2 linked regions of the Homo sapiens genome follow. The gene in region 1 interacts genetically with each later gene. Each region holds a gene or a part of one and is shown in the gene's direction. Other genes may lie near its edges.

What was found.
Region 2: of TARDBP (region 1) and DNAJB1, changing one suppresses a phenotype caused by changing the other (phenotypic suppression), as found in Homo sapiens cells (one study listed by BioGRID).

Annotation. Positions count from the first base shown.
Region 1 is NC_000001.11:11,007,878-11,015,917, forward strand, and holds the start of TARDBP (TAR DNA-binding protein 43), read left to right. Parts: upstream 1-4,776; 5' UTR 4,777-4,866; intron 4,867-5,838; 5' UTR 5,839-5,850; coding exon 5,851-6,088; intron 6,089-8,040. UniProt on the Homo sapiens protein: RNA-binding protein that is involved in various steps of RNA biogenesis and processing.
Region 2 is NC_000019.10:14,515,072-14,522,207, reverse strand, and holds the start of DNAJB1 (dnaJ homolog subfamily B member 1), read left to right. Parts: upstream 1-3,810; 5' UTR 3,811-3,858; coding exon 3,859-4,069; intron 4,070-4,270; exon of another isoform or gene 4,271-4,617; intron 4,618-5,161; coding exon 5,162-5,742; intron 5,743-6,037; coding exon 6,038-6,268; 3' UTR 6,269-7,136. UniProt on the Homo sapiens protein: Interacts with HSP70 and can stimulate its ATPase activity. Stimulates the association between HSC70 and HIP. Negatively regulates heat shock-induced HSF1 transcriptional activity during the attenuation and recovery phase period of the heat shock response.

The DNA of each region.
Region 1 (8,040 bases):
TTACTTGCTTTGTCGCCCAGGCTGGAGTGCAACAGCTTGGCTCACTGCAACCTCTGCCACCTGGGCTCAAGTGATCCTCCCACCACAGCCTCTCCAGTACCTGTAACCACAGGTGTACATCTCCAGGTCCGGCTAAATTTTGCATTTTTTGTAGAGATGGGGTTTCACCATGTTGCCCAGGCTGGTCTCGAACTCCTGGGCTCAAGTGATCTGTCTGCCTCGGCTTCCCAAAGTGCTGGGATTACAGGTGTGAGCTACTGTGCCTAGCCTAAAGCTACTTTTTTTTTTTTGAGATGGAGTTTCGCTCTTGTTGCCCAGGCTGGGGTACAATGTCTCAGTCTTGGTTCACTGCAACCTCCGCCTCCTGGTTTCAAGTGATTCTCCTGCTTCAGCCTCCCAAGTAGCTGAGATTAGAGGCATGCGCCACCACGCCCGGCTAATTTTGTATTTTTAGTAGAGACAGGGTTTCTCCATGTTGGTCAGGCTGAACCCGACCTCACATGATCCGCCCGCCTCGGCCTCCCAAAGTGCTGGGATTACAGGTGTGAGCCACCACTCCCGGCCCTAAAGTTACTTTTATTTAAATATCTTTATTGGCTGGGTGGTGGTATGTGCCTGTAATTCTAGCATGTGGGAATGCCAAGGTGAAAGGATCACTTGAGGCAAGGAATTCATAACCAGCCTAGGCAACATAATGAGACCCTGTCTTTACAAAAAAGTTTTTTTAATTAGCCAGATGTGGTGGTGCACACCTACATAAATAAATAAATAAATAAATAAATAAATAAATAAATAGGGCCGGGCACAGTGGCTCACGCCTGTAATCCCAGCACTTTGGGAGGCGGAGGCGGGCAGATCACGAGCTCAGGAGACTGAGACACGGTGAAACCCCGTCTCTACTAAAAATACAAAAAATTAGCCGGGCGTGGTGGCGGGCACCTGTAGTCCCAGCTACTTGGGAGGCTGAGGCAGGAGAATGGCGTGAACCCGGGAGGTGGAGCTTGCAGTGAGCCGAGATTGGGCCACTGCACTCCAGCCTGGGTGACAGAGCAAGACTCCGTCTCAAAAAATAAATAAATAAATAAATAAATCTATGTATCATTATTGCCCTAGTATTTCTTTCAGTTTTGTCTTTTTTTTTTTTTTCTTTTGAGACAGAGTTTCACTCTTGTTGCCCAGGCTGGAGTGCAATGGTGTGATCTTGGCTCACTGCAACCTCTGCCTCCCGGGTTCAAGCGATTCTCCTGTCTCAGCCTCTGGAGTAGCTGCGATTGCAGGTGCCTGCCACAATGCCCTGCTAATTTTTTGTATTTTTAGTAGAGACGGGGTTTCACAATGTTGGCCTTGAACTCCTGACCTCTGGTGATCCACCCACCTCGGCCTCCCAAAGTGCTGGGATTACAGGCGTGAGCCACCGCGCCCAGGCTTCTTTCAGTTTTCAGGAATGTTGTGGAGCTGTGTCCTGTTTGCCTCATGGAGCTGATGAGCTGGGAGAATTCAAGGGGGTTGATGGAAGGGGAGAAGGTAAGTCCCCAAGTGACCCAGTTGAAAACCAGGGCCTGGGCCAGGCACAGTGGCTCATGCCTGTAATCCCAGTACTTTGGGAGGCTGAGGCGGGAGGATTGCTTGAGGTCAGGAGTTGGAGACTAGCCTGGCCAACATGGTGAAACCTCGTCTCTACGAAAAATACAAAAATTAGCCAGGTGGGGTGGTACACGCCTGCAGTCCTAGCTACTTGGGAGGCTGAGGCAGGAAAATAGCTTGAACCCGGGAGGCAGAGGTTGCAGTGAGCTAAGATTGTGCCACTGCACTCCAGCCTGGGCGACAGAGCAAGACTCTGTCTTGAAAAAAAAAAATGTTGTGTTTCAAACAACTTTTGACAATCAGTGCTGTAAAGCTGAATCCCAGAGACAACTGAGATAGGAGCAGGAAGATCTGTGGTCCAGTCTCCCTCTGGCCTTATAATTATCTTCCTGAGTTACTTACCTTCTTTGAGACAGTGTTTGCTTGTCCTCCCAACTAGCCTGAAAACTTCTTAGGAGAAGGGCCAGCCTTTGGGGTCATGTTCCTGTGTGACCTGTCTCTAGGAACTTCTGCATACCCAGCTCTGCCCACTTGGAGCTAGTGTCCAGGACTCCACAGCACTACCCGCACTAAATACCTCGGTCTCAGTCTTGTGACAGAAAGTGGCCAGTGTGGTGGACATAGTGCAGAGGTTTAGGGTCTGACCAACCTGGGACAGCAATTTATGGGCTAGGTGACATCCTTGAGCAACTGTATGACCTCAGGCCTGTCATATGGTCTCTGAGCCTCAGGTTTTTCTTCTGTAAAATGGGAGTGATAAAACCGACTTCTCTGCTGGGTATGGTGGCTCACGCCTGTAATCCCAGCACTTTGGGAGGCTGAGGCAGATGGATCGCTTGAGCTCAGGAGTTGGAGGCCAGCTTGGGTAACATGTCAAGACCCTGTCTCTACAAAAAATATAAAAAATTGGCTGAGTGTGGTGGTGTGCACCTGTGGTCCAAGCTACTCCGGAGGCTAAGGTGAGAGGATCGTTTGACCCCTGGAGTTAGAGGTTGCAGTGAGCCGAGGTCACTGCACTGCACTCTAGCCTGGGTGACAGAGTGAGACCCCATCTTAAATAAATAAATAAAGTATTTTGTGTAAACACTTGTAACTGTATTTCATTGAGTGTGATACATGTATATACAAAGAAACATAAATAGTTGCCAGTTAAACTATGACACATCATCATCAACTGGAACTGGAACTGAAATCACATACTGACTTCAGCAATGTGAAACATTGGCCGGTCGCGGTGGCTCACGCCTGTAATCCCAGCACTTTGGGAGGCCGAGGCGGGCGGATCACGAGGTCAGGAGATTGAGACCATCCTGGCTAACACGGTGAAACCCCGTCTCTATTAAAAACACAAAAAAATTAGCCGGGCGTGGTGGCGGGCGCCTGTGGTCCCAGCTACTCAGTAGGCTGAGGCAGGAGAATAGAGTGAACCCGGGAGGCGGAGCGTGCAGTGAGCCGAGATAGCGCCACTGCAGTCCAGCCTGGGCAAAAGAGCGAGACTCCATCTCAAAAAAAAGAAAAAAGAAAAAAAAAAGAAATGTGAAACAAAGGCCGGGCGTGGTGGCACTTTGGGAGGCCGAGGTGGGCGGATCACCTGAGGTCAGGAGTTTGAGACCAGCCTGGCCAACAGGGGTTAAAAATACAAAAATTAGCCGGGCATGGTGGTGCATGCCTGTAGACCCAACTACTCAGGAGGCTGAGGCAGGAGAATTGCTTGAACCGGGGAGGCGGAGGTTGCAGTGAGCTGAGATTGTGCCACTGCACTCCACCTTAGGCAACAGAGGGAGTCTGAAAAAAAGGAAGAGAAAAGAAAGAGAGAGAGAGAGAAAGAGAGAGAGGTAGGGAGGAAGGAAGGTGGGAAGGGAGGGAAGGGGGGGAAAGGGAGGGAAGGGAGGAAAGGAAGGGAAGGAAAGGAAAGAAAGGAAAGAAAAGATAGAAAAGAAAGGTGGCTCGTGCCTGTAATCCCAGCACTTTGGGGAGCTGAGGCAGGCGGATCACTTGAGGCCATGAGTTCGAGATCAGCCTGGCCAACATGGCCAAACCCTGTCTCTACTAAAAATACAAAAATTAGCCGGGCATGGTGTCTTTGCACGCCTATAATCCCAGCTATCCCTTGAACCTAGGAGTTGGAAGTGGCAGTGAGCTGCAGATTGCGCCACTGCACTCCAGCCTGGGGGACAAGAGCGAGACTCCGTCTCAAAAAAAAAAAAAAAAAAAGTGAAACAAAAAGTGTGCCTTAAAATAGATGAAGTACTGTATTATTATTATTATTAAAGGGCTGGAGCCAGAACAAGTTAGCATTTTGTGCCTCGAGATTCAAATCCCAGGTCTACCATTTATTCCTTGGGTGACATTTTTTTGGGGGGAGGGGCTGGAGGACAGGGTCTCACTCTGTCGCCTAGACTGGAGTGAAGTGGCGCGATCTCGGCTCACCGCAACCTCCGCCTACCGCGTTCAAGCAATTCTCCTGCTTCAGGCTCCCGAGTAGATGGGACTACAGGCGCGCGCCACTACCGCCCGGCTAATCCTTGCGTCACTTTAAGCAAGACACTTGATCTCTCTGTGCCTCAGTTTCCTCACCCGCAGAATGAATATCAATAGCTCCTGCTACACAAAACTGTTTGGGCTATTAAATATGTGAATACTCAGAAAGTACCTGGCACAAAGTAGCCTTATCATTGCTATTATTTAGAACAAAGTTATTGTTTCCAGGTTTGGAGGTGGGCTGGCGGAGGGAGGAGAAGACGCACTAGGTTGCCTTTCAGAAAAGGGGTCCAGGCCTTATCCTGCCTCCCAGGTGGACTCGGCCCGGGATCCCGAGCCCCGCCCCCTCCAGGCCCCGCCCCGCCCCGCCCTCGCTGGCCGAGACTCTGTGCTACTCTCGCGCGCTTTGAAAGTGCGCGAGCTCCGACCGAGACCTGGGCCGGCGGTTGGTCGGCCGAAACCATCTGCTACGTTACGTGGGGGGAGGTCAGCTCCTATACAGCCACACTTTTTTCAATCTTCAGCTTTTCAGGCCTAGGTCCTGGTTTTATTTTAGCTTTCAGAGCTTCTCTGTAGGCTTGAATTTCCAGGAGGCAGCCCGAGTCCCTGGGGAGAGGGTCATCGTGGCTCTCGTCGGTGCCTTCCACCTCTGGACAGGCAACCGGTGGGAGAGGACGCCGGTGGGCGGGGGGAGGAGGCGGCCCTAGCGCCATTTTGTGGGAGCGAAGCGGTGGCTGGGCTGCGCTTGGGTCCGTCGCTGCTTCGGTGTCCCTGTCGGGCTTCCCAGCAGCGGCCTAGCGGGTGAGTCGCGGAGCCTTCTCACTGAGGACGCCGTAGGTGCCTCGGCTTCTGCATTGGGGCGGCCCGAGGCAGACGCAGCGGCTTCGGACCCTGCCCCGGGAAGTCAGCCGTGAGACCGGGCCTAGTCCTGCCCGAGCGGGCTCGCGCGGGAGCGTCGTTAGGTCCTGGCACGGGGAGGCCGGTGGCGCCGAAACGGGGGGCCGGGCCCGCGGTGCCGCGTAGCCTGAGGCGGAGGTTGGCCCCGGACCCGGACAGTGCCGGAGCCTTCGGTACTTTGTACTTCGAGGGACGCTGCCAGCTTGGGCCTGGTGCTCCTGCGCCCCACCCCGGGCCGCGCCGAGAAACTCCTCCCTCGGCTGGCACGCGCGGGCTTCTGGGAGGCGACGGCCGGCACCGCCAGGACCTGTCGCCGCGGGCCTTGGGGCTCGGGCTCGCAGAGCCCCCGGAAGCCCCAAAATGAGGAACAGAGGGAAACTTTTCTCCTGTTCTTTACACCTGGTTCACTGCCCATATTCAGTCTTCAGGTTCAGCTGATGGATCGCTTGCTTAGGAAAATCGACTGGGACCTATCACGCCCATGCCTCAGCCAGTTAGGCTCCTCCTCTGCCTTCAGGATTACTTAACGACTAACCCGATTGTCATAAAATAGCTACTGTTTATTGTTCCCTTGCATACCCTAGCTTGTAACCAGCAAGCCACGTTGGACTCACAGTTACAGTTTCAGTACCTGACGCATCATAAGCCTTCAGGGAAAGTTTTTTGAATGAATGAACTGGCGAGGCATCACATTTTGATAGGAAATCACTACCCTTACCTTCACCTCGTCATTTTTCAGGGATAACCAATGCATATACGAATCCAGACAAGCATTTTTCTGGAAGTCAGAACTCTGACATGGTTTGGGTATTATCATTATAAGGAAACAGTTATTCTGACATGAATGTTGTTCATTCATATCTCTTTTCTCTTTAGGAAAAGTAAAAGATGTCTGAATATATTCGGGTAACCGAAGATGAGAACGATGAGCCCATTGAAATACCATCGGAAGACGATGGGACGGTGCTGCTCTCCACGGTTACAGCCCAGTTTCCAGGGGCGTGTGGGCTTCGCTACAGGAATCCAGTGTCTCAGTGTATGAGAGGTGTCCGGCTGGTAGAAGGAATTCTGCATGCCCCAGATGCTGGCTGGGGAAATCTGGTGTATGTTGTCAACTATCCAAAAGGTTTGTTACCATTTGGTTTTTGTAATCATGCTGAAGTGTGTTCAGGTGTGTGTCTCATCCATGGATCTTAGCCTCTTTTGGTGGCAGAATGTCTCCTGAAACTTAAGTATTTCCTTGAACTTCAGTGTTAGACAAGTTTGGAAGACCACGAGTCTAAATTTATGGAAACTGGGGATTGTAGATCATTTTAAAAGAGAAAACAATGTATTTAAAAAATATCTGAATAAACTTTGCCAAGTTGATGATAAATTTCAGGAATCACTAAGAATGTTTTGTACATAAATCATTGTTGTAAATAGATTCTTCTGAAGTGCTTCAGTGTTTGGATTTGATCATTGTCCTTTTGGTGTTACATCATTCATTCAGCAAATCTGAGTTCATTTTTTCCCTTAAATGAGCAAACAGTTGGAGTAGCCAAATCTTGAATTAGTGCAGTTCCAATTACAATTTCGAGGTTCTGGTCTTATCCTTCTCTCTGCCTCTTATCAATGATGTTCTAAATCTAAGAAAAGGAAGCATGAAGTTTAAGAAGTGTGCCAAGGAAATACCTAATTTCAGCATTTTGAAGTAGTGTGCTGTTAGTAGTCGATCTGTCTGTGTGTTCCTTTTATTATAACTTGGTATTGCAACAAAGTCCATCAAATTTGGTCAGTATGCAAGACACCCTTTTACATGTCTAGGAAAACTTTAGGGCTAGGCACGGTGACTCATGCCTGTAATCCCAGCACTTTGGGAGGCCGAGGCAGGTGGATCACCTGAGATCAGGAGTTTGAGATGAGCCTGGCCAACATGATGAAACCCCATCTCTATCAAAAACACAAAATCTCTGGATGTGGTGGTGGGTGCCTGTAATACTAGCTACTCAGGAGGCAGACGCAGGAGAATCGCTTGAACCGGGAGGCAGAGGTTGCAGTGAGCAGAGATTGTGCCATTGCACTCCAGCCTGGGCAACAAGAGCGAAACTCCGTCTCAAAACAAAAAAAAACGAAAACAAAAATTGGCGTGGTGGCGGGGGCCTGTAGTCCCAGCTAGTCTGGAGGCTGAGGCAGGAGAATCGCTTGAACCTGGGAGGCGGAGATTACTTTAAGCTGAGGTCGCGCCGCTACACTCCAACCTGTGACAGAGCAAGACTTCGTCTCAAAAAAAAAAAAAATTGATAATGTAAACTCGGGGTTTTTAGTATGCTGTTTCTTCAGCCAGTGGGTATAGATTAATATTTACTCAAATTTAAAATGTCAGGCTCGGTGCAATGGCTCACACCTGTAATCCCAGCACTTTGGGAGGCTGAGGCAAGCAGATCACCTGAGGTCCGAAGTTCAAGACCACCCTAGCCAACATGGTGAAACCCTGTCTCTACTAAAAATTCAAAAATTAGCCAGGCGTGGTGGTTCGCGCCTGTAGTCTCAGTTATTTGGGAGGCTGAGGCAGGAGAATTGCTTGAACCGGGAGGTGGAGATTGCAGTAAGCTGAGATCGTGCCACTGCTCTCTGGCCTGGCAGCAGAGCGAGACACCGTCTCAAAAAAAATTTTTTAAATGTCATTTAATTTATCTCCCCAGGCTGGACATGGTGGCTCACATCTGTAATCCCAGCTACTCGGGAGGCTGAGGCAGGAGAATCACTTGAACCCGGGAGGCAGAGGTTGCAGAGAGGGGAGATTGCGCCACTGCACTCCAGCCTAGGTGACAGAATGAGACTCCGTCTCAAAAAAAAAAAATTATCTCCCCTTCTCTTCTAAATAACCTAAGGTTGAGGTTATTTGGGGGGTTTTTTTGTTGTTGTTTGTTTGTTTGTTTTTTGAGACAGTCTCACTCTGTCGCCCAGGCTGGAGTGCAGTGGCACGATCTTGGCTCACTGCAACCTCCGCCTCCCAGGTTCAAGCAATTCTCTGCCTCAGCCTCATGAGTAGCTGGGATTACAGGTGCCTGCCACCACGCCTGGCTAATTTTTGTA
Region 2 (7,136 bases), on another chromosome or scaffold:
ATAACTTCACAGCAACACCTAGATTAGTGTTTAGTTGAATAACTAGGTTCTAGAGCTTAGCCACGCTGACACAACAAACAACTATAACAGCTTTTCCAAGTTAAGAGCCCAATATCTGCTGAAGTTGACGCAGAGGCCATTTTTTCAGTAATATTCTGAAGTTCTCAGTGAGTGTTCAGGTCACAGTACCATGTCCATTAGGAGAGAGTTACTGGGTTTGTTTGTTTGTTTAATTTCCTGGCTCCTAGAACTGATTAAAAAAAAAAAAATTAAAACTTCCCGAACTGGCTGGGCGTGGTGGCTCACGCCTGTAATCCCAGCACCTTGGGAGATCAAGGCGTGTTGATCACCTGAGGTCAGGAGTTCAAGACCAGCCTGGCCAACATGGTGAAACCCCATCTCTACTAAAACTACAAAAATTAGCCAGGCATGGTCGCAAGCACCTGTAGTCCTAGCTACTTGGGAGGCTAAGGCAGGAGAATCACTTGAACCCAGGAGGCGGAGGTTGCAGTGAGCTGAGATCGTGCCACTGCACTCCAGCCTGGGCTACAAGAGTGAAACTCCATCTCAAAACAAACAAACAAAACTTCCTGAACATGACCCAGGCTTACTCAAGGAGGGGAGAGTTCCCAGCTCTAACACTGACCCCAAGCACAAAGACATCCCTTCCGCAGTGTTTTTAGCAAAATGTTCCCCTCCAGTGTGTCAAGAAACTTTTATTATTATTATTATTATTATTATTATTATTATTTTGAAACTCTCACTCTGTCACCCAGTCTGGAGCACAGTGGCACGATCTTGGCTCACTGCAACCTCTGCCTCTCGGGTTGAAGCGAGTCTCATGCCTCAGCCTCCAGCGTAGCTGGGATTACAGGCACCTGCCACCGCACCCGACTAATTTTTGTATTTTTAGTAGAGACGGGGTTTCACCACGTTGGCCAGACTGGTCTCGAACTCCTGACCTCAGGTGATCCACCTGCCTCAGCCTCCCAAAGTGCTGGGATTATAGGCGTTGAGTCACCGTGCCTGGCCTATGGCAAGAAACTTTAGAACAACCAGAAAGGCCCACCCAGAGCCATGTTAAAGCCTTTGGAGGCTGCTGCACTTGTAATTCTAAATTAAATTTATATTATAAAATACTAGTTTATAAAGTCACAAGCTCTGAGTTTTTCCCCATAATGCTCCTGATAGTTATTTATATAATTTTTTTATGGGGAGGTTCAGGATCTCACTGTCATCCAGGCTGGAGAGCAGTGGCACAATCATAGCTGACTGCAGCCTCAAATTCCTGGGCTCAAGCTATCCTCCTACCTTGGTCCACTGAGTAGCTGGGACTACAGGCTCACATCATTGCACCCGGCTAATTTTTTTTATTTTTAATTTTTTGTATAGATGGGGTCTCACTATGTTGCCCAGGCTGGAACTCCTGGCCTCAAAAGATCCTCCCACCTCACCTTCCCAGAATGCTGGGATGACAGGCGTGAGCCACTGTGCCCAGCCTAGTAACTTTTTAAAAAATATCAAGTTCTCTCTCCCCATAATTGCTTCAGGACCCCTGCTCAAGTATGGTTCTCGATGTCTAGGGAATTTCAGCCCCATCCTCCCGGGTTGTCCAGTTCTAGTCCAGAGTTCTTGCTGATGCAGTTACCTCAGAGATCATTGAGTGGGCCAAGAGAACCAGATCTGCCTGCTGGATGCTCCTGATAGTTATTTATGTAACTATCCGCCATGATGCTCCTGATAGTTATTTATGTAACTTTTTTATGGGGAGGCTGAGGGTCTCACTGTCACCCAGGCTGGAGTGCAGTGGCACAATCATAGCTGCCTGCAGCCTCAAATTCCTGGGCTCAAGAGATCCTCCCGCCTCAGGAGGCAGGAGGATGGTCTTCTTCTTCAGGAGTCCCTGTCTGCCCAGGGGCAGCTGTCACTGGAATCTTTTAGCTGCCAGGAATGAGGTGATGGCTGAAGAGCCCACCACTAAGAAAATGGTTAGTCACCCCTTTGACAATGCTTCCTTTGTGCCATGCCTGCTCTGAGCACTTTGCAAATGTTGACTCATATAAACTTCAAAGCCCTCATGATGTGGGCACAACTGCTATCCTCATTCCTCATTGTGCAGATGAGGAAGCTAAGGCCAGCAAAGGCCTAGTAACTAACCCAAGGTTACCCAGCCGGGAAATGCTGGAGCTGGGAATGAAGCCCAGCTGTCTGGTTCCAGAGCCAGTGTTACATGGCTCTGACCTCCCAGGCAGTTCTTCCAGGAACCTCCCCCACTTCCCTGGGCCCTTCCCAGGTGGAACCCCTTTCTGAGCCTCCTTTTCCCATCAGCTCTGTCCTTGACAGAGGCACCCCAGACTTTCAGAGCCAAACGCGATCGTGTTGCCTACAATTGAGGAAACAGAGGCCTTGAAAGGTGTGTGACACACCTATGTCCCCCCAAATTATAAAGGTAGTTGGGGAAGAAAAAGAAGCACGTGTGTAAGAACGGGGAATATTTATGAGGTTCTCACTGCGTTCCAGGCACTGGGGACCCAGTGCAGACAGGACCTGGCCCCTGCCCAGGTGGCGATGTCAGACTGGGAGGGAAGACACATTGAAAGCCAAGAGACAAGATAAATTTCAAATTTAGCGGCAAGTGATCTTGAGAGGGCAGTAAAGGGAAGAAGGCGGGACTGGGAGGACCTTGGGAGATGCGCTTCCGTCCAGATCCTCACCTTGCTTTAGGAGGTGAGAACAGAGGCAGTCTTCCGTCCCAAAATCCTTCTCCCCACGGTTGGGAGAATAGCGCTGGTGGGTTTTTTGTTCATTTTACTTTATTTTACTTATTTTATTTATTTATGAGACGGAGTCTCGCTCTGTTGCCGAGGCTGGAGTGCAACGGCCGGATCTCGGCTCACTGCAACCTCCGCCTCCCCGATTCAAGCTATTCTCAGGCCTCAATCTCCTGAGTAGCTGGGATTACAGGTTCGTGCCACCAACGCCCGGGTAATTTTTATATTTTTAGCAGAGATGGGGTTTCACCATGTTGGCCAGGCTGGTCTCGAACTCCTGACCTCAAGTGATCCGCCCGCCTCGGCCTCCCAAAATGCTGGGATTACAGGCGTGAGCCACCGCGCCCGGCCTGTTTGTTAATCTTAAATAGAAACGGAGTCTCCTTATGTTGCCTAGGCTGGTCTCCAACTCCTAGGCTCAAGAGATCCTCCTGTCTTGGCCTCAGGAAGTGATGGGATTACAGGCATGAGGCTCCGCGCCCGGCCTGATAGGTTCTCTTATTGCCATGTTGTAGATAGAAGGGGGCCCCTGGGTTAGGCAGACACAGGTTAGGTAGTTCGTCCGGCGTCACCGGGCGGGAGCCCACCGCAGGCCCCACGAGACAAGGGCGAGCAGGTTCATCGCCTCCCGGGGAAAGGACTGGGTAGTCCCAGGCCCCACCCCTTCCTGGAACAGCAAGTTCGCTGTGGGTCCCGACCTACTGACCCAGGCGGAGGGCGGGACGCAGGGTAGCTGGGGCCGCGTAGAGAGGGAAAGAAGGTCGCGATTGGCTCGTCCCGAAAGGTGGGCGGGGCCTCCTCCGACCTGTGCGCGCGCGCCGCGGGGAGGTGTTGCCGAGGGCGGAGCGGGAGGGGGCGTGGCCCCGCGCGGGCGGCCGTTGACGGCGAGGCCCCGCCCCGGATGTCGCGTGTCGCTGAAAGGGCGGCGGCGATTGGCCGGCGCCGCGGGGGCGGGCGGGGCGGAAGGTTCTGGAGGGGGCTGGCGGGCTCTGGAAGCTTCCGCCGGACGGGTATATAGAGTCCGGGACTGGTCGGCGGCGGAGCCGGGGGACGGCGACAGCGGGTCGGCGGGCCGCAGGAGGGGGTCATGGGTAAAGACTACTACCAGACGTTGGGCCTGGCCCGCGGCGCGTCGGACGAGGAGATCAAGCGGGCCTACCGCCGCCAGGCGCTGCGCTACCACCCGGACAAGAACAAGGAGCCCGGCGCCGAGGAGAAGTTCAAGGAGATCGCTGAGGCCTACGACGTGCTCAGCGACCCGCGCAAGCGCGAGATCTTCGACCGCTACGGGGAGGAAGGTGTGTGCTCGCGGCCAGGGGCGCGGCCCCGCCTTTTGACAGACAGGGAAACTGAGGCACGCTGGCCCCTCTCGGCGGCCCCCCGGGAAGGACGCCCCGGGCCGTGGGGCCGAGCTGCCCCGCCCTCCGGCCTCGCGGGCCTCCGCCCTCGGATTGGCGGCCGCGCGGTGGGAGGAGGAGCCTTGGCCCAGCCGCTCGGCCAGAAGCTTCTAGCATGTCTGGGGCTGCCCCTCCCCGGGCGCCTCCTCCCGCGGCCCCGAGCAGCCCCGGGGTGCGGTGCATGGGGGTGGGGGAGCCGGGGGTGACGACGGGGACGGCGCGGCGGAGCCCGCTGCGGACCCGGGCTCACCTGGGCTCGGCCGCCGGGGTCCGCGGGGCGGCGCCTCCGGCTCAGCTGCGGGGCGAGGGGTTGTGAATGCAGGAGCCGACCCCGTTCGTGGGCTTGGGGGCTGGGTTGGGATAATTCCCGGGAAGTGATGACCTGGCCCCGGCAGGGCACGCAGGAGGCAGCGGCCGCCCAGGTCCGGAGAGCGGGGCCGCCTCGGAGGGTAAGGAGAGCAGGGCTTTTTGTTCCTGTGCCCGTTGATGATTCAGGCTGGCTTCTGGGCTTGATCTGGAGCTGACTTTTTGTGCAAGGATGGTGGCAGTGAATGCTAATGTGTGAGGATTTAAAAACTCCCTATTTATTTTTGTTTTTTTTTTTCTTCTCTTCCTACGCACCATTAGCCCTAAAACGTTGAGAGTAAACACTTACCGAAAGCCGACCCTGGACCATGTGTCTTTAGCCATCTCTTGGTGATGTTGCCAGGAGGATGGGTCAGTCCAGGAGTGGCAGGGCCTAGGTGGCACCTGGAGGTGAACACCTAACCGCATGAGTCCTTTTCCACTGTCAGGCTACGCGGAAATACTGTTGGTAGGGGGGCGTCTCTGCTGTTGGCAGTGAGAGGTAGAAACTTGGGGTTCTTCCTTGCTCTCCCCTGACAGACAAAAAAGTTCCTCCCCCATGGCTTCCAAGCTGTTTCCCCCTGTAAGGGAAGCTCGAGAGAGAGTCTGCTGTTCAGCCATCTGACTGCTTCTAAATCTGCTTTTCAGGCCTAAAGGGGAGTGGCCCCAGTGGCGGTAGCGGCGGTGGTGCCAATGGTACCTCTTTCAGCTACACATTCCATGGAGACCCTCATGCCATGTTTGCTGAGTTCTTCGGTGGCAGAAATCCCTTTGACACCTTTTTTGGGCAGCGGAACGGGGAGGAAGGCATGGACATTGATGACCCATTCTCTGGCTTCCCTATGGGCATGGGTGGCTTCACCAACGTGAACTTTGGCCGCTCCCGCTCTGCCCAAGAGCCCGCCCGAAAGAAGCAAGATCCCCCAGTCACCCACGACCTTCGAGTCTCCCTTGAAGAGATCTACAGCGGCTGTACCAAGAAGATGAAAATCTCCCACAAGCGGCTAAACCCCGACGGAAAGAGCATTCGAAACGAAGACAAAATATTGACCATCGAAGTGAAGAAGGGGTGGAAAGAAGGAACCAAAATCACTTTCCCCAAGGAAGGAGACCAGACCTCCAACAACATTCCAGCTGATATCGTCTTTGTTTTAAAGGACAAGCCCCACAATATCTTTAAGAGAGATGGCTCTGATGTCATTTATCCTGCCAGGATCAGCCTCCGGGAGGTAAGGTGCCAGGTGGGGCGGTGTCTGTAGAGGGCGATGGCTGCTTTTTGAAGCAGTTTAGTATTTGCTGAACCAATGTGTTGGGGTGTGTGGTGCGTGCCAGGCTTGGGGCACAACAGTGAACAGGACTGACCAGGGCGCTGTTGTGGAGCTTTCGTGGTGGGGACGTGTAGATTTGGGGGCCAGGTCTTAGCTGCAGAGGCCTGATGGGTCTTATCTATGGCAGACGGCCTCTGGGCAAGAGCTGAGCCTCTTGAGCCAGCTTCCATCTAATGCTGTCCTTTTGCTTTTCAAGGCTCTGTGTGGCTGCACAGTGAACGTCCCCACTCTGGACGGCAGGACGATACCCGTCGTATTCAAAGATGTTATCAGGCCTGGCATGCGGCGAAAAGTTCCTGGAGAAGGCCTCCCCCTCCCCAAAACACCCGAGAAACGTGGGGACCTCATTATTGAGTTTGAAGTGATCTTCCCCGAAAGGATTCCCCAGACATCAAGAACCGTACTTGAGCAGGTTCTTCCAATATAGCTATCTGAGCTCCCCAAGGACTGACCAGGGACCTTTCCAGAGCTCAAGGATTTCTGGACCTTTCTACCAGTTGTGGACCATGAGAGGGTGGGAGGGCCCAGGGAGGGCTTTCGTACTGCTGAATGTTTTCCAGAGCATATATTACAATCTTTCAAAGTCGCACACTAGACTTCAGTGGTTTTTCGAGCTATAGGGCATCAGGTGGTGGGAACAGCAGGAAAAGGCATTCCAGTCTGCCCCACTGGGTCTGGCAGCCCTCCCGGGATGGGCCCACATCCACCTCCAGTCCCTGGCCAGGGGTGAGAGGCAGACCAGCAGATGGACTTGATCCCTCTGTGTCTTTTTGCTTCTGGCTGGTAGATAATGTCAACCTGCAGTCTTGATTCCCAGACCCTGTACACTCCTCCTTTTCTGTTGTGTGATCAGTTTGTGCTTTATTCTGTATTTGTCTCCCATGTCTTGCTCTTCTCCTGGAGAATTCTGTCTTCTCTTTGGCCATCTCAAATTGAGAACCTAAACTATTCCTGCAGAACTGCCTGGTTGGCGTCCACAAGCAATACCTCTCGTTCCAGCAGGACCAAGGGAGCCAGCCTCCAGTGAGTGACTCCAGCAAGTGCAGCCACCTCTCCCTTGATGGTCTGGGAGCCTGGCCTCAGCAAGGGGCCTTCCTGACCTCTGGCTCCAGTGAAGCTGAATGTCCTCACTTTGTGGGTCACACTCTTTACATTTCTGTAAGGCAATCTTGGCACACGTGGGGCTTACCAGTGGCCCAGGTAATTTTTTGTTTCATGGACTATGGACTCTTTCAAAGGGATCTGATCCTTTTGAATTTTGCACAGCCCTAGATACAATCCCTTTTGATAAAAGG